Linked DNA regions of Homo sapiens. The protein of the gene in region 1 purifies or fractionates together with the protein of each later gene. This does not show direct contact. Each region holds a gene or a part of one and is shown in the gene's direction. Other genes may lie near its edges.

What was found. The genes of interacting proteins can lie anywhere in the genome.
Region 2: the proteins of BRINP2 (region 1) and RDH14 purify together in Homo sapiens (affinity purification with mass spectrometry; 2 studies listed by BioGRID and IntAct, with this or other methods). This does not show direct contact.
Region 3: the proteins of BRINP2 (region 1) and EDEM2 purify together in Homo sapiens (affinity purification with mass spectrometry; 2 studies listed by BioGRID and IntAct, with this or other methods). This does not show direct contact.

The regions. Positions count from the first base shown.
Region 1 is NC_000001.11:177,166,526-177,173,964, forward strand, and holds the start of BRINP2 (BMP/retinoic acid-inducible neural-specific protein 2 precursor), read left to right. Parts: upstream 1-4,432; 5' UTR 4,433-5,207; intron 5,208-7,439. UniProt on the Homo sapiens protein: Inhibits neuronal cell proliferation by negative regulation of the cell cycle transition.
Region 2 is NC_000002.12:18,557,623-18,565,292, reverse strand, and holds the start of RDH14 (retinol dehydrogenase 14), read left to right. Parts: upstream 1-4,639; 5' UTR 4,640-4,720; coding exon 4,721-5,113; exon of another isoform or gene 5,114-5,117; intron 5,118-7,670. Other genes in the region: NT5C1B (cytosolic 5'-nucleotidase 1B), read left to right, coding at 1,174-1,497. UniProt on the Homo sapiens protein: Retinol dehydrogenase with a clear preference for NADP. Displays high activity towards 9-cis, 11-cis and all-trans-retinol. Shows a very weak activity towards 13-cis-retinol. Has no activity towards steroid.
Region 3 is NC_000020.11:35,137,306-35,144,342, reverse strand, and holds part of EDEM2 (ER degradation-enhancing alpha-mannosidase-like protein 2 isoform 1 precursor), read left to right. Parts: intron 1-1,864; coding exon 1,865-1,970; intron 1,971-6,337; coding exon 6,338-6,463; intron 6,464-7,037. Other genes in the region: MMP24-AS1-EDEM2 (ER degradation-enhancing alpha-mannosidase-like protein 2), read left to right, coding at 1,865-1,970, 6,338-6,463. UniProt on the Homo sapiens protein: Involved in the endoplasmic reticulum-associated degradation (ERAD) pathway that targets misfolded glycoproteins for degradation in an N-glycan-dependent manner.

The DNA.
Region 1 (7,439 bases):
AGTATTAAACTTACTTATGCAAGGTTATTTGCCATTGAATAATTATAGTGGATGTCAGGAACACACCCTTGATACTAGAATGTGAGAAATGGCATGTAAGTACCTGATCATGTATTCATCCAATCTCTCACTTAACAGATAAGGAAATTGAGACCCATTAAAGAGTGATCTATCTTCTATGGAGCTAAGACCATGAACAAGATTTCTTTGCCCACTGCTCTTTCCACTATATGGTTATGGTACACTAGGGTGCACCCATGGATAATCACTGGGCTTTATGGACCACAGTAATTAATTCAGCAAATGTTTGTGTACCTACTGTATCATAAGCATTAGGCTAAGCACAGCCAGAAAAATACTACTCCTGCTTTTGAGTAGCATATAATCTACTGTCACTTTGAAATCTTTCTTTCTAATTTTCTGAAGATTCTTGAGTCATGTTAGAAAGCCCAAGTAAACCATTTAGGGTTGATTTTCCAATAAGTCAATATCTAGTCTTCTTAAAATGTATATTGAGTTGGGCATAGTTGGTAGTTGGTATCTCAAGTCTTTCTAGACCTCTCTAAACAAAACCAAACAAAAGAAACAGTAGAATTTTTTAAAAGAGAATATATTATTCCAGAGTACTTGATTCCTGTAAAAATGGAAATAATGTCACATGGCCCTTTCTTAGGGAATTAAATACCTAGAGATGTGGGTAAAGGTTGAAGTACATGGAAACCAGGCCATCTCTAATGCATGATGTTTTACATTTAGAGGAGATGGGGGAAAATGTTATGCATCTCAATCATCACCTTTGTGTAGAGGCATAATGATATAGTGAAATAATAGAACTGGATTCAAGACTTAACTTCATAATATTCTTATTTGGAGATAAGCTTGGACCATTCTTGTCTTTAGTTCCCCATCAACAAAAGGGGCCAATCATCTCCGCTCACCCCTGCTGGTCACAGAAAATGTTTCTGACTTTCATCACCAAAGAGTAATGTTACTTGCTCTTGAATTTTATAAATATAGAATCTTAGAGTATATGCTTTTTTGTGTCTTAATATTTTCACTCATCATTATGTCTGTGAGATTTATCCATGTAGTTCAATATTGTATTGCTGTGTACTAGTCCATTACATGACTACATGGCATTTATTCATTCTCAGAAAATTTCTATTCTTTAAAACACTGTAAAACAGCAAGCGCTGTTATCTCCAATCTTCACTTTTCTCCTGAGATACACCTTCCTGTATTTAAGCACCAATGGCCTCTTTCCTTGACTATTAAAATAGATTTTGATTCCTTTTCCTCCTAGCAACGCATTCTGTACACAACTACCAGGTTGATCTTCATGAAATCTAACTTTCATTATGTCATTCTAGTTTTTCTTTTTCTACATGATAAAGCTGAAAACCCATGGTTTAGAAATTTTAAAACTCTTCTAATCTCACACTGTTTTTTAGATAGTTTGCTCACTGCACTATATCTCTATCCTCCCACCACACATGTGCACACAGACACACACATCTCTCAATCAAATTAAAATCTATTTCCTATTTTCACTCCTCCCATAACATTCTGTCCACCTGAAGTGCAACACTCTTTATTCTTCAGATTGTCCCATCTCTCCAAGCTAATCTGCAGCTGCACCTATGCAGTGAGAACTTCCATCACTTCCCTTCTTTTAGCTCCATTCCCTGGGCATTTATTTACATCTCCCCCAACATCTACACATATACATACACATACACTCAGGAAAGCAAGAGCTATTTCCTAATACAAAGTCTTAAATTCAATATTCTTATTTGCAAAACAGGAATAATACATAGTTTTGGGGGTGGTTGTGAGGAGGAAATGAGATTATGTATGTAAACAATGTGACACATTTTAGGCATTTAGTTGGCACTCAGTAGCGATAGCCTTTGCCACTATCACCTTATTCAATTATTTTGGCAAGATAATAGGCTTCAGAGTCATCTTCATGAGATTTTCTCCAGTGTAGTAGTCAAAGCAAATTAAGTAATGTATAGTCCTTGGTGTTTTCCCAGAGGAAATGATTGCATACATCCACCAAAAGACAAGCACAAAAACATTTATAACAAGTTTACTTATAATAGCCAAAAAACCCCAGAAACATCCCAAATATCTATCAAGAACAGAATGAATAAATGCCATGTAGTCATGTAATAGAGTGGTGCACCGCAATAAAACATACAACTACATGGATAAATCTCAGAGACAAAATGATGAGTGAAAGGATCAAGACACAAAAGAGTGTATACTCTAAGATCCTATATTTACAAAGTTCAAGAGCAAGTAACATTAATCTTTGGTGATGGAAGTCAGAATATAATTATCTCTGGGGAGTGGAGGGTTTTGACTGAGAACGTTCACGAACATGCTTCCTGCAGTGCTGGAAATAAAGTGAGTAATGGTTACATTGATGCATATATAGGCAAGAATTAAACTATACACTTGTGGCAATTCTTAATGTATATTCTGCCTCTTTAAAATTTTTTACACGGCTTCAGACTTTATAGGAGAAGAAAGTACAAGCAAGTTTTCTTTTTCAAGTTGTCTTCTTATCTGCCATCACCTCTTTCCTCTCTCTTTTACAGATTTTGGAAATTTTAACTTTCTTTCCATTGAAATTAGCAATCCTTTGTTCAACCTCTCCCTCTATTTACCCACTCCCTTATGCTATTTTAACATTTCAGTATGTTGTCACTTGGGACAAGTTCAGTGGGTCTCTGCCTCTAGAAATCACAAAAGTAAATAACTCAGCAGTTGGGTAGCAATAGATTTAGGCTCTCAGTGGTTCTCTTGGTTATTTTATTCTAGAAAGAGAGCTCAGGACCCTGTGGGACCACCATTCTCTGACATGTTTTGTAGCTTAGGCAAACAGATACTTGCAGTATGCAGAAGGAAGTTCAACGTTGTATAAGATACAGAGAAGAAAATATAGGTGAAAGTGATAGATGTGTGAGTCTGAGGGGATGAATGAAGAAAATTTCTAATTTTTCTTTATTCATTCAGAACTTACGGCTACTTGATGCAGTTTAGCTAATCTCCATGTGTACTTCTTACACATTCATTAAATCTCTACATACTTTTTTTTTCTAGTTCTTTACAAAATAATCTCCGATGTTGCTCTCCATTTAAGGAAACTAAATTGAAAGACTCCTCTCGCTTTCTGACTATATATTTATCTTCTTCATACTTCCCCCACCACATGACTTAGCATGGATCTCCCAAGTTCCTTCCCCAGCTCCAGCCCCCAGCTCTTCCCTTGAATTGGATTTTTCTTCAACTATTACTCTTTTTCCTATGCTCCTGCCAAAATCTAGTTTAGTATGCTAGTTAGCGGGACATGTTTCAGTTTTGTACCCTCATTAGGATATCAAAAATATATACTTCACACTTCAATGTAAAGTTAATATTTTCTTCCCTTCTCCTTTCCTCCCTTTTCCCTCCACCTCCCTCCCTTTTTTCCTCCCTCCCTCTCTTTCAATTCACAGGCCCAGCAACAGCACCTGCTTCACAGAAACAAGGCTGGTCCTGTTCTGATTTCTCTAGTCTTCCTTTAAAAACTAAACGGAGATGCACAGTCCCTCTTCCTGACACACACAGAAGTGAAAGGAGACACACAGAGGGAAAACACCACAGGCAAAACAATTCCCTTTTTTGGAGGGACATTTTTGAAACTTAATCTCTCCCCAGAAACCTGAAGTTCTCCTCTTTGCCTTTGTCCTTACAGTCCTGGTGTGGGGGCAGAATGTTTCCTGATTTAGCTGTCCTGGCCTCTAAATCTGTTTCACTCTCTAGCCATCTTACTGGGTTCTTGCTCTCTTTTGCCTCTCTCTCCTCTTGGGTCTCTGGGGTGTGTGTGTGTGTGTGTGTGTGTGTGTGTGTGTGTACTATTTCTCACTTGGGGGCTCATTTCTAATTAAGTAATCCAAGAGGCTAAAAAATGCACAAAACAACCAAATGAAACCTCAAATTAGATGGAAAATGGCTCAGATGGGTCCCAATCTCTGGGAGTTCTAGTTAAGCAAGCAAACAAAATGGGCTGGGATAAATGATTATTGTAACTCAGGAAGATTAGAAGAAAATGTAATTAGCTCCCCAGCTACTTCTTGTTCCCCAGCCTTTTTAAGAGTGTCCAACGCCCCACCCGTGAATGTACCCAAGGCTTCCTTATACACACCAAAAAGTCCCCACTGCAACGCTGGGAGGGTTAACAGAGCTGGTACCCCAGCCTGCCAGCTCACCAAAGGAGAGAGCGGTGAGGCTCAGAGCCCGCCCCCTGCCAAGCCGCCCAGCCAATGGGCACCTGTGGGGAGTGTGGCGCTGTGTCCCATTGGCTGCCAACCTACATGCATAAGAAAGAAAGAGAGAGGCAGGCAGGGCAGCATTGTTATCTTAAGACACTCATCTGGTGTCTGAGTCTGCAGGTGACACTGCTTAGGTACGGAGCGCGGAGTCGGAGCGGGGACGCGCCGGGCTGCAGCTCTGGGATGCAATCCGCCTGCCTCGCAAGCTGCTCGCCGCTGCGCTGGCAGCGCTTACGCTGAGCTCGGAGGATCCCATTAGGACTTGCCCGGGGATGTGCACCTGCCGTGCGCTCCGAGGTCAGTGGCAGGTCTGCAGGCAGCCGAGGGAGCGGTGAAGCCGGAAGACCTGTCTCTGCCCATGTGCAAGGCAGTGATTTCGGGTGAGAGAGCGGGTGGGTGAGTCTCTTTAGAGTTGGAAAGAAGGCAAAATCTTGGGTTTCTCCTCGGCGGAGGGACAGGGGACTCCCCCAGTTGGGTCTTGCACTTCCCTTACCTCTCCCACCCCGCGTGCGCCCCGGCCCAGTGCCGAAGCCCCACTTCAAAGATGCTCTGGGAGACCGGGATCCTGGCTGCTCAGCGGGAAGGCAGCAGGCAAGTGGTCTAACGTTGGCGGCGGTGGCGGTGGCGGCGGCGGCGGCACCGACAGTAAAGCGGGGAGCAAGAGAATTTGAAAAGAGACATCCGCTCCCTCTCACACGCTGAGGGGGAGGCATTCGCGTTTCCCCAAATGAGAAAGAACCACAAGAAATCATGAAGTAAAAACTTTGGAAAGCTGCCACTGGAGATGTTGCACAAAAACCTGGAATCTTTTAGGAGTCTCCTCCCAGTCGTTGAAGGTTTGGGGAGCAGCTGATACAGCAAGGAGGGCTCTTGCAAGGATTCAAGGTAACAGTGCAGGGTTTCGGTGATTTTTCTCCCCTTTTCATTGTCCTTTTTGGTGTGTCCGTTGGTAAAGGGACCATTTTGCTCTCATACAACCCTCTTGCCCTGGTGCCTGGCAGTGGCAGGCAGAGGGAATGATGCCACCTCTCCTAGTTTCTGTCTTGTGGAGTTGAGCAATGGACTTTGGGGTTGAGCTAGAGATTGCTCTGGTATTGCCTCCTGGTGTTGCATGGCTGTCAGAGGGTTTGGGCTCCCTGCCTGACCTATATTGCTTTTGCCTGGTTTAAGTCCTCAAAGTTAGTGCAACTCCTATTAGCTTCAGAAAATTCAATAGGGCTGCATAATTGCAGAAGATGACGAGGACTTTTGCCTGCCCAGCTGACGCTGGGAGGTTCATTATGTTTGGGAAGGAGCCCAAAGAGCTGAGGTTACAATGCACGATATCTATATTATCGTGCTCATAGAGCCCTATGGCATGTTTCCCATGCACATGCAGTCAGGAAAATAAAATTCCAAACAGTGAACCCTGTAGGTTGCAAATAGTCTCCCCAGGGTGGTGGCAGAAGCCCCATTGATTGACTTGAGCCTGGCAGAGCACTGGAGACACTAGGGAAGAACATTGCTGTGCTGAAAGGTGGGATGTGCTGGTATCATCTAGCAGATCTCTGTCTCTGTTTTTGTGATCATCTGGGTACACTGTCGAATGCTGCCTGTGGTGTGTGTATGTATGTGTGCTTGTGCTCACAGCTGTATGCAGGAAACAGGCTGCCCACAGAAGAACCAAGCATGTCCAGCACCCTGTCCAAATCACGGATGCCTGGAGTGTTCCTGCCTAGTAGGAACACGAACTTGTGAGCTGTTGTTCCAGCCCAGAGGACTCTTCTCCTCACCAAGCAGTCCCTCTGCATGGTACATATTTATCCAGGGTATATAGACCTAAGCCAAATGTTAACCAATGTTCAAGCTAATGCACTGTAATGTGATTGAACAGACCCCTCTGTAAAGAATTGTGTGTGTGCTCTTTGCAGCCCTAGGAGCAGGGTGCTATGAGCAGAAACAAATGTTTTGTTAAAAGGATAACAATTATAAAAGGTCAAGCTTATAGTTGGGTAATCTAGGCCTTATTCAGCAGGGACATTGTTATGTCAGCATAGACCAATCAGAGGGATAAAAGGTATATTATAAGTCAAGTATTTCTGCTTCTGTCCTTCTCCAGACATGTGCATGTTGAAGTGACTCTCTCTGACCATGCTCGCTAAAATACATGCAATGCCAGTATTAACCAAGCAACTAAAGTATACCAAATCCCCCGGGGGGCAGTCTGATGACATCAGGCAACAGCAAAGTGATGCTGGAGTTTGTGTGCTTTCCCTCCTGACTCACACAGTTGTGTGTATGTTATTTGTTTAAGGCATGACCCTCTGGAGTCCCCCTTCACCCAGAATAAGTTGCTTTGCAGCACTGAGGGCATGACCGAGACATGCTGCCACAATGATCCTGTCTTATCAATATCAGAGCTGCTGCCTACTCTAGGAAAAGATGCATGCCTTGCTTCTTTGAGGAGGATATAATTTGAAAAGGCACAGAGCATGTATATTGTGAAATATTTGAGATAAAGGAAGCAAATGTCACACCATAGTCTCCCCTTCTGGAGGTCAGCTGGCGCCAAAGTGTTTGACAGCTGGGCTGCAGCCATGGAGAAGACAGGAGCATTCTTGACTCTTACTTCCCCTCTTCACCAAAAATGGAGCTGGCTTTGTCTCCCAGAATGGAGTGATGTGTGCTGCAGTGTGGGCACAAGAAAGGAGGTGAGGAGAAAAGGGCTGGGGAAGGAGGAAGGTTCCTGCTCTGTCAGCATGGGGCTGGTCTCAAAGATGGGGAGCATCTTCCCTTTTTGGCCCTCAAAATTATCTTCTACGTGCTCCTTTCTGGCCTCCTGACAGGTTGTTTACTGAACAAGGCCAAAGGGCAAAGAACAACCCTGTGTCATCACCTTCTCCTGATCCCCTTTCCCAAGACACAGGCTGGCCACTGGAGAGCATCACAGAAAAATGATACACTCCCTTGAGGCACTGCTCTGAAATCCCTCCCCAACTCACAAACAAGAGGTAATCTGGAGGGACTTGAGACATCTGCGTGGGCACTTTCTGCTGACTGGGATGCTTAGTTGAGGTTTCCTGGTTAGTGTTTTGTTTTCCCCACTGCGCAGTGTATTTTTGGTGATTCAACTCTTTC
Region 2 (7,670 bases), on another chromosome or scaffold:
TATAATATACTTAACCATAGAATTAAAACTAAAACAACCGTACAAATGAACAAATTTGTATGATGTACAAATTATGTAACTAACAAAAAATGGAAAAATATGGGGAAAGAAGGTCTACGGAAGAAGTATGCTGGAATTTTCAGTTACAATAGCCAATCAAAGGATGAAATGTAAACTTGATAAACAGAAATAAAACAAAATGTAATAATGCAAAAGAAACACCAAGGAAAAGTAAATAAATGACTAAAATTAGATGGTGGAGAAGAAATAGAGGACTACAGAGACATTGAAGAAATGCCCTGCTTTCATTATTTCTCATTATGAAGAATAATAGATCTGGGATTCTTTTTAAAATAGAGGACTGAGGGTACTATAAAAGGTTATAGTTGTAAAGGTAATTTATAGAAGGAAATAATGTAAACCTTCTTAAATGTCAGAAGAACCACCCACACACAACTACAAAGAAGAAAGACACAGATTATTGAACAATCCTTTAAAAATTTTAAAACATGGAAAATGCAATAAAAACCATAAGACAGAAACAATCTCAAGTATGTTTGTAATATGAATAAATGTAAATGAACAAAAACTTAACTATTGTTTTAAAAAATAAGATTTTCAGGTTGTATCACATAGCAAAATCCAATTCTAGGCTCTGTACAAGAGATACTAAAACCAAGTGTTTGGAAAGGTTAAAAATGAAAGACACAGTTAGATTCAAGCCAAACAGCATTAAACTAGACAAAAGCATATACTTCATAAAGTTAAAATGCACAATTCACAAAAAGCAAATTAAAAGAGTAGTGCTTTGGTAACTAATTAGAGTTTATTTAGAGTGACCCTCTATTCCAGCTTACCATGGATAGTTTATGTCTGTTGTCCTGGCTTAAGTATTTATTGAACATTCTTTCATACCTAAAGTATATAGGTTTACATGTTAAATAATATGGTCATTTTAGGCACATTCCAGGAATGCAAGGATGGTTCTATATCAGAAAACATATTCACATAAATTCCTATCAAGTTTTAGCATTTTGCCATCAGCTTCATAACACTGCATGTCATGCTGTATTATATCCTTTGTATTGTATCGTATCATATAGGTCTCTGCTTTTTAGCATTCACTTTCTTTGGCTCACTGTATCACAGCTGTGATATATGTTCCTTTTACAGGGTCCCCTAAAAGGCTTTCTGGAAGATTTAGGCAGACTGCAAAAGAAGTTCTATGCCAAAAATGAACGGTTACTTTGTCCTATCAGGACCTACCTGGTTACAGCTAGGAGTGCAGCCAGTTCAGGCGCCCGTGTGCTGAAGACCCTTCGACGCTGGGGTCTAGAGATAGACGAAGCTCTTTTCCTTGCTGGAGCCCCCAAAAGTCCCATCTTGGTGAAGATCCGGCCCCACATCTTCTTTGATGACCACATGTTCCACATTGAAGGGGCACAGAGGTTAGGTTCCATCGCAGCTTATGGCTTTAATAAAAAATTCAGTAGTTAGGGGCAGGGAGGAGAAATAAAGTGGTGATAGTCTGGTGTTACAGAAGCCACTTCTTTTGGCTCTCTAGGATAATTAGATAGGTATTTCAGAAAATTGGACCTTAAAACTTTGCTTCTTTGGAAAGGTTTTCTCCTGATTTTTTGGAAAACCTTTTGAACCCTCAAGTTACCATCAAACTACTTCTCTTTGAACTACCAATACTGTTGAATGCCATTACACCTATCTCTGTGTAAGTCATAATGATGACTCTTTAGGATAAGTTTAGAACTTGAATATTTGCATGCTTAAGGCACTGTTTTAGAAGCTTACTTAGTTTTATAAACACTGCTCATTTTTGGATGTTTGTAGATAACAATGAATTGTTACCCATCAGCATTGTAGAATAGTGTCTTCAAAGGTAGAAGGAGTATGGTTAAGCACACTCTTGAAAACTGGAGCTTTGTATTCTGTGACTGCTATGGCTAGCTTTGTAACCAAAGCAAAATGAGAATTTCACTCTACCTGCATGAGTATAACAATTTTGATACTGCTCATTTAGAAATAAATCATCTGGTTGTTCCTCCAGGGTACTTTCTAAGATAAGCCTTAAACAGAAACCCCTAAGAAAGGTTCTCTGAAAATTATTTGGTGGGTTAAATGCCTCTGATCCACAGAGTTTCATATTTGAAGTCTCCGGCTTTGGGCCTGGCAGGCTGGCACATCCATATTTGTATGGAAAAAAAAAAAAAAGACCCTACGCTACCACTTCAAAAAGTGACATGAAGTGTAGTATCCTGGCCCTTCATTGTCATTCTCTCATGATTTTTGTTTTGTTTTCAACAAAAATTGGTTGGTCATTAAATATATCATATGTTAGGCACAGTGACCTGGTTATTTTCACATGTTACTTCATTTTCTTATCAAATTAAATGTTTGTGACATAGTATTATTATTACCTTCCTTTTTATCAATGAGGAGCCTAAGATTCAAAAAGATTAGACAGCTTGTTTAAGGATATGGAGCTAATAAGTGTTAAGACTAATTAGATTCAAATTCAAATCTTACTTCATAAGTTATAATGAGGTCTCTTTCCTCCCTTCCAAATAGAGTTATTAATTTCATGGCCTTTGGACCCATCTGGTACAGATTAATCATTTCATTAAGTTCCATGCATAAACTACACAGCAGTTACACTGCAGGTCTAAGGATTCCTCCCTCCTCTTTTCCTCCTACCCTCTCCTGCTCTCTCTACCTCCACCTTCATCTCTACTCCACCTGTACATATGTATTCCACCCCTGGCTCTAGATGAGAGAAGACCACAGCTGAAACACATCTTCTGATGCTCCCTAATTTTATGTAAACCAGTCCAAAATATATCAGTTGTGACATGTGACACTGAGTACCTACCATTTTGTAGGTGTCCTCCCATGCAAAGACCACAAGAGGTACGCAGACACAATCCTATCCTCTAGGAAACTTGAAACCTTAACAATCTGGTCAAGGAAGTCAAATGTGCAAACTCAAACAGCCAATACTAGAAGGCTGTTTGTCTTCAGTGCCAGTGAGGGTCACACATGACCCTGAGGGTCACACATGAAGGGAGCAGAGATCTTTATAGGCTGGAAGTGGTCAGGAAAGAAAGACTTGAGGTAGCCTGTGATTTTGATGGATGGGCAAGATGTGGATGGGTAGAAAGGACAATAAAGTGGAAACATATGCTGGGGGATCAATGAGTTTGAGTAGCAGCTTCAAATTGGGGATAGGGTGGTGTAGGACCACCTCTCATGATTCCTGTTCCTGGTGCCTTGTATAATCCCCAGTAAGAGTGCTCTTTCCCACCTCTGAGCTCCATTCTCATTACTCATAAGAAACCTCCTGGAATCCATCCCTTTTTCTTTGTATTCTGACTATTAGTTGCATGTTACATCCTTCCCAAATGTAAGGGAGTGGAAGATGGATTATCACAATTATTGGGGAGTTTGTCTCAAACGACACAAGCTGTGGTTCTTTTTCCTTGTCTGGAGAACCTGCAATGGGTGGAGGGTGGGAAGTGGGAGATCACAGTTCCAGAAAGTAAGCACCCTGAGAGCAGAAATGGTGTCCCATTTCTCTGTGGCTCTAACAGGGAACAGGCAGGGCCAGGCACATATTGGATGGAGAGGCAGACGAACGAATGAGTCTTTAAAAGTAGCTTGGTCTACAGCTATGAAGTTTGTAGCTTGAAGAAGGGTCCCTGTGACACTAACCCTGATATTAATGAGGCATTTTACAGTGAGCCAAGCACTTTGCCTTCCATCGTTGTGTGTAATAGTCCTATGGAGAGGGCAGGGAGGCATTTGTAAATGGCCTGCTCAGAAGCCTATATTTACAATAAGTCCAAGCTTTTCCCACTGTACCTCTGCCAGTGTGAAGATCATTTGAAGATGGCTTTCTTTTTTTTAATAGGGACCAATGACATAATGTCTTGTTCAGTGGTTCTCAAAGTGTGGTTCCCAGATCTGCAGCAGCAGCAGCACCTGGAAACTTGTTAAAAGTGCAAATTATCAGGCCCCATCCTGTACCTATTGAATTAGAAACTCTAATACTGGGGCCCTGGTTTTTTGTTTTCGTTTTGTTTCATTCCCCCACCCCGAACCCCCACCCCAAGTCCTCCAGGTGATTCTGATGTGCATTTAAGTTTGAGAACTACTCGACCATTCTATTTCCAACTGATTCATGTTGCTTAATTCTTTGTCTCATCTATGAAAAACAGTCCTACCTCAGACTTCAGCTTGTCAGGGCCCATTCCTCAGAAGGTGAATTGAACTGAATTTACAAGTCCCAAGAGCCCTCAAAGGAAAACACACGAAATGCCCTGAGGAGTGGCATTTGTAACAGGGCCTGTACAGAGATCTGTGATTCAAAGTACTCATCAGACATTCCCATGGGGAAGTCCGCCACTACTCTGGGATTTCAATACGTATGAACCCCAGCACCCTGAACACTGTGCTGGTTGCCCAGCCTCCATCATTAGGCTGGGAGGAGCTTCCACGGAGGGCGCAGGACCCAGGGCGCTGAACTCTCACAACCAATCAGGCGACCCCCCCAGAGGGAAACTACAAGTCCCAGCATGCCCCACGCGCACCGTCAGGGGCCGACCCGCCGCGCCCCAGCGTTCTCCGCGTACAGGTGGTCTCTTGGGTTCCGGTAAGGCGGCGGCTGCGGAACTCCCGTGGAGGGGCCGGTGGGCCCTCGGGCCTGACGATGGCAGTGGCCACTGCGGCGGCAGTACTGGCCGCTCTGGGCGGGGCGCTGTGGCTGGCGGCCCGCCGGTTCGTGGGGCCCAGGGTCCAGCGGCTGCGCAGAGGCGGGGACCCCGGCCTCATGCACGGGAAGACTGTGCTGATCACCGGGGCGAACAGCGGCCTGGGCCGCGCCACGGCCGCCGAGCTACTGCGCCTGGGAGCGCGGGTGATCATGGGCTGCCGGGACCGCGCGCGCGCCGAGGAGGCGGCGGGTCAGCTCCGCCGCGAGCTCCGCCAGGCCGCGGAGTGCGGCCCAGAGCCTGGCGTCAGCGGGGTGGGCGAGCTCATAGTCCGGGAGCTGGACCTCGCCTCGCTGCGCTCGGTGCGCGCCTTCTGCCAGGAAATGCTCCAGGTGTGGGCCTCGGGGGGCCGGGCTGGTGGGGAGGGCCTGGGCACGGTGTGGGAGGGGACTGCGGGCTGGGGCTGAGCCGCGAGGGACCGCCCTGGGGTTCAGGGTGTCACCTTGGGAACCGCTGAGGCTGAGAGGAGTCCAAAAAGCCACTTTGAGGCGGCCGGGAAGCTGCAGGGTTGAGAGGGAAAGAGAAACTAACTGGGAGGGCTGCCTTCTGTCCTCTAAGGATGTCGAAAAAGAAATGGGCCCAAGAGAAAAATAAATAAACCAGTTTCTGAACGTTTCATTTCGTTACGTGAGGACCGCCCCGAAGTAGATCCATGGCCTCTGAATTGTTTTTCCTGTGTCAGAAGTGAATTTGCACCAAGCTGTGTCTTCAGAACCCCTGAGCACTGGGGGAAGTTGCTAGCTAAGGACCTCATATCAGTCCTTTAAAAAAAGTTCTCCTTCCCCCGGCCTCTGCCCCTTTTCTGCTGGGGTAAGGAGCTCGCTGCCACCAGTAAACTCAGCACCATCCTTAACGGGACTGTGGCCTGATTTCCAAGTAGAATACATTTTGGAACCCAGTGGTCATGCTCCATACAGAGACAGGAATAAAAATAACACCCAGCATTATTGAAGATCTGTATGCCAGGAGCTGTGCCAAGCATTTCAGATTTTCCTTTTTGTCTTAAATGAAAATGAAGTGTCCTTGCCTATAACTGTCATTGAAGCTACACAGTAACCCTGTGGAGTAGGCATTATTATCATCCCTGTTTTACAACGCGAGGAAACTGAGGCATAGGAAGGCTAAGAAACTTGCTTGTGGTCTGTCTCCAGAACACTTGCTTTTAACCCTTGTTCTTTCCTCCTGCTGCCTGGCAGTGAGGTGTGAGGATTTCTTTGTGCAAATGGTAAGTAATTCCACATAAGTGGATGTTCTCCGTTGAGATTGAGGTAGAAGAGTTTCTTGCAGGGATAACTGGCATTCAGAGGGCATTTGTTCAGAAGAGTGAAATTTAAAATTAGCTGGGACAAGAAAGGTGCCTATATGACGTAGAGTCTCTTGAGTCTAGAGAAGAGGTTCCCAAATTTTCTCAGTAATTTTTTCATGATGCCCTTAGGCCAGAAATATTTCCCAGTTCATTTATTTAGAAAGTTTATTTTGCCAAGGTTAAGGATGCACCCGTGGCAGAACCTCAGGCGGTCCTGAGGACATGTGCCCAAGGTGGTCGGGGCACAGCTTGGTTTTATACATTTTAGGGAGACATGAGACATCAATCACATATGTAAGGTATACATTGGTTCTCCTGGAAAAGTGGGACAACTCGAAGTGGGGGCTTCCAGGTCATAGGTAGATGGGAGACAAAAGGTTGCATTCTTTTGGGTCTTTGATTAGCCTTTTACTGAATACAATTTACATGTGCAGGAGGGATAGAGGAATAATCACTTATGTCTTAGACTGGCTCAGTGAGTCTGCATTTTCACATAAACAATACGGCAGAGTCAGCAATCAGATAAGCATTTATCTCAGGTGAGCAGAAGGATGACTTTAGAGTTCTGTCTTTTGTTTGGCACTTGTGAAGATGAGCTATCAATTTATGAATACATTGCCAGGGTGAAATTCAACAGAAGTGTTTTAGGGTAAAGATCTTGAGGCCCATGTGGGCAAATTATGAGGGTGATATGTAGCTTCTTTTTCTTTGTAGCTATCTTATTTAGGAATAAAATGGGAGGCAGGTTTGTCTGAGGCAGTTCCCAGCTTGACTTTAACCTTTGACTTAGTGATTTTGGGTTCTGAGATTTATTTTCCTTTGACACAACCTAATAAGTAGTTATGTCCTAACAACTTAGTAGCTATTTGAGAAGATAACATAATTGAAAGAAAAAAATAATATGTTTATTTTGTTCTTAAACAGCCATAACTACTAATGGGAAATGTATCTCTGTTGGTCATTACACCAGTGTCTGAAACCTTGGAATCAGATTGGACACTTCCACCCTCATTTCCTGTTCTAGGTAGATTTTTAGCATTGTTCTTGTTTTTTATTACAGCAACTGCTAACAGCTGCTTAAAAGTCAGCTCCACAAAGAAATAATGTCATTGAAAGGAATATAGCACAATGTAATGTTCAAGCTGTGAACCACCTGGAGCTAGTAGTTTTGAGGTATTGAGCAAATATCACTGTGTTTCCCTCGAAAATTTAAAATATTCCACAACACCCTGAGAGTTTGCTGCAATGCTGTAGGCCACAGTTCGGGAGCTGTTGCAGAACTAGAGAGTTGGTTTTTTGTTTATTGCTAGTATTTAATTATGTGTAACACAGGTTAAGAAATAATACTCATCAGTGAGATTTTGGAAGCATTAAAGATGGATCTTTCTGTTCCTCTTTAAAATATAGATGGGGCTGGGTTTGCTTCTTTGGCACTTGAGGCAGAACTAATTAAAAAGTGAGGACACAAAGAGATAATTAAGTTGTCCTTGCTTCTAAGTAAGTATTTCTGTTCCTGCCTGGCTCTGAAGTTAAGTGACTATAATTAGAAGGAAAAAAAAATGGAAATGTAGATTTCCCACAGG
Region 3 (7,037 bases), on another chromosome or scaffold:
TTATAAAGAAATAATATCAGTGACTAGTTAGTATGTTTCTGTAGGGCTTAGTACAGACATGTATTAATTCTTCTAACAACTTCTTGAGGTTAGTACCTTTACTCCTTCTTATCGTTAAGAAACCTGATGCTTAGGGATGGGCACAGTGGCTCACGCCTGTAATCCCAGCACTTTGGGAGGCCAAGGCGGCAGGACTGCTTGAGCACAGGAGTTCAAGACCAGCCTGGGCAATATGGTGAAACCCCGTCTCTACCAAAAATATAAAAAATTAGGCATGATGGCACATGTCTGTGGCTCCATTTGTTAGGGAGGAGGGTGAGGTAGGAGGATTGTTTGAGTCAGGGAGGCAGAGGTTGCAGTGAGCCGAGATCGCACCACTGCACTCTGGTCTGGGTAACAGAGTAAAACCCTGTCTCACACAAACAAAAAAAAGATATAAAAGAAACCTGATGCTTAGAAAGGTAAAAAGGGCCAGGTGTGGTGGCTCATGCCTGTAATCCCAGCACTTTGGGAGGCCAACATTGCTCAAGTCCCAGAGTTCGAGGCTGTGATGAGCTATGATCACACCACTGCACTCCAACCTGTGTAACAGAGCAAGACCCTGTCTCAAAAAAAAGACTTGGACTGGTTCAGGTCAAGTACCCACTCCACAGCTAGAGGGATGGGATCAGCCTCTCCCAAACCACAGGAGTGACTGCCGGGGAAGAGTGATTCCTCGAGGGTAAATTGAGATGTTACTATCAAAAGAAGAGAGATTGAGATTGCATTTGGCTAACGGTTTAAATAAAGAGGGTTTATTTTCTCAAGTAAAAGAAAGTCTAGAGGTAATTTCTAGCATTGGGTCAGCTACGCAACTGTGTCATTAGAGACCAGCCTCTTTGTAGCTTTGCATTCTAGTATCGTTAGTGTTTTGGCTTTTATTCTAATGCTTAGTACGTCATGGTCTCACATAGCTGCCATCACTTCAGAAATCGAGTCTGAGTTCAAGGCAGAAAGAGAGAGACTAAAAGCCATGTTAGCTGTGTTTGTCCCTTGGTATTAAGAAAACAGAAGCCTTCCCAGAAGTGCCCCCAGTAGACCTCTCAAGGGTCAGAATTGACTGGGTAACACAATCAACTGCAGCAGCAAAGGAGGCCGAGAAAGCTTCTGGATTTCCAACCTCTGGTGGGAGGCCATGAGGTAAAGAGGGTAGGAATGAATTTGTTTTGGGCCAACCAACCTGTTCTGTTTTCCACAAGGTTGAAGGTGACAACTGGTATCTACTGCAAATGTCAAACTAAGACTTTTGGCCAGGTGCGGTCGCTCACACCTGTAATCCCAGCACTTTGGGAGGCCAAGGCGGGTGGATCATGAGGTCAGGAGTTTGAGACCAGCCTGATCAACATGGTGAAACCCCGTCTCTACTAAAAATACAAAAATTAGCCGGGCATGGTGGTGCATAATCCCAGCTACTCGGGGCTGAGGCAGGAGAATCGCTTGAACCCAGGAGGCGGAGTTTGAAGTGAGCCAAGATCACGCCACTGCACTCTACCCTGGGCAGCAGAGCGAGACTCTGTCTCAAAAAAACGAAACAAAAAACCTAAGACTTCTATGCGTAGTTTGCGTTCTTTATATTGTGTCCATTTAAATGACAACATCGTGACTCTTAATTGGGACCTAGGAATTTACTTAACCAGTCTCTTGGTATGAAGTCTCTAGATGATTTCTAGCTCTCAGTGTTTTCTTCTGCTGTCACCAATCCTAGGACAGAAACTGGAGGTCTTAAGTGGAATTAGTGAGGGCCACATCAACATAGGATCCCAGACTCTGAATCTGCCTCCATGCATGTAAGAGCCTCATTGTCAGGTCTCTTTTTTATTTCCAGATTTTGGGGAATGTCTCAGAATTCCAAAGAGTGGTTGAAGTGCTCCAGGACAGCGTGGACTTTGATATTGATGTGAACGCCTCTGTGTTTGAAACAAACATTCGAGGTAAGGGCTGCTCTCTAGGACCTTTAAAAGAAAAAAGAGTGTGAAGTTGCCTCTGTAAACCAAGAAGTGGTAAATAGGATTTTAAGGACTGACCATGCCAGGACCCTTGGCCAAAACCTCTGACCGACAGAGCTCTTCTTCCCTCCTGGAGGGTGAGGTGGGGAAGTCTCAGGATTTCCCCATCAGTTTCAGATATGAAAGTGAGCAGGAGACTAAGAGACTGGAAAGAAATACACCAGATTACTCACCTCTTTAATATGTATTTGATACTAGGCATACAGCTATGAACAAGAAAGATATGATCCTTGCCTTCTTGGAACTTATTGTCTGTCCAATCCAATTTTCTGCAGTGATGGAAATGTCTTATAGCTGTGTTTTGTCCAGTATGGTAGCCACGAACCACATGAGCTATTGAGCATTTGAAATGTATCTACTACAACTATGGAATTGAATTTTTAATTTCATTTAATTTTAATGATATTAAATTTAAGTAGTCACATGTAGTTAGTGATTATTGTATTGGACAGTGCAAATCTACAGCATTAATCTTCCAAACTTGGCAGCCCATAGGAACCACTCCCAAGTGGTTAAAAAATTCAGATGTTGAGACTCCACCCTAAACCTAATGAATTGGAATCTCTGTGTTGGGTCCTAGAATCAGTATTTTTAGCAGACTTCCAGTGATTCTTGTGAAGCCAGCACAGCCCTTATTTGCATCGAACCTCTAGACCACTTAACAGCTGTCACCTCTGGATGGCAGAGTTCTATTTTTCCCCATTATTTTGTATGTTTTCTGCAATGAAACTTATATTCCAGACATATGATCCATAAAAGATTAAAAAAGAGAAGAGAGCAGAGGGACAACATGGTCTAAAATCCTGGTTTAGGAATCCGGCCTGAGTTTGAGGCTGTACTTGCTGCTATGTCTCCCAGCTTCTGAGCCCAGTTTGTCATCTGTAAATGAAGGTCATTCTTATACCTTTATTTCTGATAGGAATATAAGTGATACCAGCTTTCTTTTGGTTGACATTTTCCCATGTATCTTTTTCTATCCTTTCCATCTTTCTGTAGTTTTATGATTAGATACATCTTTTGCAAATAGTGTATTATATTTTGTTTATCCATTCTGACAATCTTTAACTGGCACATTTAATCCATTTACATTTACTGTAATTACTGATATATTTGCACTCATTTCTACAGTATTGTGCTCTCTGTGCCGTCTTCTTTTTTTTTTTTTTTTTTTTTTTTTTGAGGCGGAGTCTCACTCTGTCGCCCAGGCGGGAGTGTAGTGGTGCAATCTTGGCTTACTGCAACCTCTGCCTCCCGGGTTCAGGCGATTCTCCTGTCTCAGCCTCCTATGTAGCTGGGATTGCAGGTGCCTGCCACCGTGCCCTGCTAATTTTTGTATTTTTAGTAGAGATGGGGTTTCACCATGTTGGCCAGGCTAGTCTCGAACTCCTGACCTCAGGTGATCCGCCCCCCATCAGCCTCCCAAAGTGCTGGGATTATAGGTGTGAGCCACTGCACCTGGCCCTGTGCCATCTTCTTTATGTTCCTTTATTCTGTCCTTTTTCATGCCTTCTTTAGATTGTTTTCCCCCCATTCCATTTTCCTCTTACTAATATGGAAATTATGCACAATATCTAGCTTTTTACATAGTTTTCCAAGCAAATTTAACAAACATAACTTATCAAAGTCTAAATTTAATGAAAATCTTTGTTCTCCTCCTGAATAATGCAAAACCTGACTTAGAGAACATCCTGACCTATATGCTACAGTTATATATTTTAGTTATTTGTTTTAAACCTTCCATACATTATAATTTTTGTTCTATATTGTTGAAGTTTTGCATTTACACATAAATTTACCACTTTTTTTGTTGTTGTTGGTTTGAAATAGAGTCTCACTCTGCCACCCAGGCTGGAGTGCAGTGGCGCGATCTTGGCTCACCTCCACCTCCTGGGTTTAAACGATTCTCCTGCCTCAGCCTCCAGAGTAGCTGGGATTACAGTTGTGCACCACCACACCAGGCTAATTTTTGTATTTTTAGTAGAGATGGTGTTTCACCACATTGGCCAGGCTGGTCTCAAACTCATGATCTTGAGTGATCCACCTGCTTTGGCTTCCCAAAGTGCTGGAATTACAGGTTTAGCCACTGTGCCTGGCCTATTTACCACTTTTTTGACTATTTTTTCTTTTCGTGTCTCAGACCTTTTCTCTAAAGTATTTCCTTTAGAATTTCCTTTAATGCAGGTGTGTGCTTCATAAACATTCCCAGCTTTTGTTTATATGAAAATGTCTTTATTCAACTGCCTTTGGTTGGCCTTTGAGTGATATTTTTGCTGGGTGTATGGTTCTAGGTTGATGGTTACTTTCTCTTATTGTGTTAAAAACTTTTTCCATTATCTTCTGGTTTCATTATTGTTAAGAAGTAATCTGTCAATGTAATTATTATTTATTTGTAGAGAATCTTGTTTTGGTTTTCACTTTGGCTGTCTTCTCCTTTTAAAAACTTTTTGTTATGGAAAACTTCAAACATAAAAGTAGAGAAAATAGCATAATGAACCAGACGTGCCCATCACCCAGCATTAATAATTATTATTACATGGATTCTGGCTGCATTCGAGATCATTTTTCCCTTTGGTGTTCTGCAGTTTTACCATAAGGTACATACATGTAGATTTCTTTTCTTTCTTTCTTTTCTTTTTTTTTTTTTTTCTGAGATGGAGTCTCGCTCTGTCGCCCAGGCTGGAGTGCAGTGTCATGATCTCAGCTCACTGCAACCTCCGCCTCCTGGGTTCAAGCAATTCTCCTGCCTCAGCCTCCCGAGTAGCTGGGACTACAGGCGCACAACGCCATGCCCGGCTAATTTTTTGTATTTTTAATAGAGACAGGGTTTCACCGTGTTTACCAGGCTGGTCACGAACTCCTGAGCTCAGGCAGTCCACCTGCCTCAGCCTCCCAAAGTGCTGGGATTACAGGCATGAGCCACCGTGCCCAGACTTTTTTTTTTTTTTTTTGAGACGGAGTCTCACTCTGTCACCCAGGCTGAAGTGCAGTGGTGCAATCTTGGCTCACTGCAACCTCCACCTCCTGGGTTTAAGCCATTCTTCTGCCTCAGCTTCCCAAGTAGCTGGGACTGCAGGCGCTTGCCACCACGCCCAGCTAATATTTTGTATTTTTAGTAGAGACAGGGTTTCACCATTTTAGCCGGGATGGTCTCCATCTCCTGACCTCGTGATCTCCACCTCGGCTCCCAAAGTGCTGGGATTACAGATGTGAGCCACCATGCCTGGCCTGCATAGGGACCTTTTATCAGACTTCCACTTGGGGCAGGTCTGACCTTGGTCTCCTATTCCCCCTCTGCAGGGAGGAGGGGAATTTTGAAACTTAGGGTCACCAGTTATTTTCATTGAGAGGGCCACTCAGGATATCTATTTAGCTGTATTTCCAAGAACCTTTGTGTCTTTTTAAAAGTTCTAAGTAGGCCGGGTGCGGTGGCTCATGCCTGTAAATCCAGCACTTTGGGAGGCTGAGGCAGGTGGATCATGAGGTCAGGAGATCGAGACCATCCTGGCTAGCACAGTGAAACACCGTGTCTACAAAAAAAAAATCCAAAAAAATTAGCCGGGCATGGTGGTGAGCTCCTGTAGTCCCAGCTACTCGGGAGGCTGAGGCAGGAGAACGGCGTGAACCTGGGAGGCGGAGCTTGCAGTGAGCCGAAATCGCGCCACTGCACTCCAGCCTAGGTGACAGAGCGAGACTCCGTCTCAAAAAAAAAAAAAAAAAGTTCTACATATTGCATAATAAGTTGAAATAGATAAATTAGTAAAATAAAGGTAATAACCATCATTACCCCTTCCCCCCAGGTATGACAGGTGACTGGGAGACAGACAGAGTGACAAATGGAATGAGCATGGGCTTTGGAATCAAAGATACTCAGCCCTACCACCTACTAGATGGGTGACCTGGGGCAAGTCACTTTATCTCATGGAACCTCAGTATCTTCATACGAAGAGGGGACAGTAGTACTTAGTGCTTGGTACACAATAGGGACTTACAAAAAATAGCCACTGTTCCTGTGATGAACCAAGAGAAGAAAACCCCATAAACTTAACACCATAGAAATATGTGGGATTAAGGGACTCTTTTTTCGCTGGGTGGCTCTAGCTCCTTCCCAGTGAGCCACCCCAACAGAGTGAGGTTTTTGTTTGTTTGTTTTTACCCGTGAAATAGCTTCAGGAGGTCCTGAGAACATGCGCCCCACAATAGAGTGTTTATGTTTAACTCGCACAGGGGAAAGATCCTTGATCCCTTGGTCTTTCCCTTTGGACTGTGCCATTTGCTTTCTGTGCCATCTGTAGTGGTAGGAGGACTCCTGTCTGCTCATCTGCTCTCCAAGAAGGCTGGGGTGGAAGTAGAGGCTGGATGGCCCTGTTCCGGGCCTCTCCTGAGAATGGCTGAGGAGGCGGCCCGAAAACTCCTCCCAGGTAAGACCCACACAGAGATGGGGCAGAGACGAAGTCCAGTAGGTCCTGCTTCCCTTGCTGAAGATGAGAGTGGCAGTGCTGAATTAATTCCTGGTATTTCTCACCAGGTGTATTTGGTCTTTCTACCCACCAGGCACCCACCATGGAAATCAGGAGTGTCCTGGGCATTTTAAGGGCCTGCTGGGGCCCTGACCCGGATGGATGAGTTGACCTCATTATTGTTTGCAGGGGATGGTTGAAGGTGGCCAGCCTGGTGGGTGGAAGGCCATTACCCTTATTTTGAATGAGCCCATTTGTCCCCTTCCAGGTACTACAGTTATTCCACACACTGCTGGAGTAACAGGGGCCCAGGGAAGGGTGTTGGTGTGAGCATTAGCAGCCCTGGATTCTAGACTCAGCTCTGCCAGCCAACATCGTGACCAAGCCACTCTTTCTCTTCATAGTTTGTTGTTTGTTTGTTTGTGATGGAGTCTTGTTCTGTCGCCCAGGCTGGAGTGCAGTGGCACAATCTCAAGTCACTGTAACCACCGCCTCCTGGGTTCAAGCAATTCTTTTGCTTCAGCCTCTTGAGTAG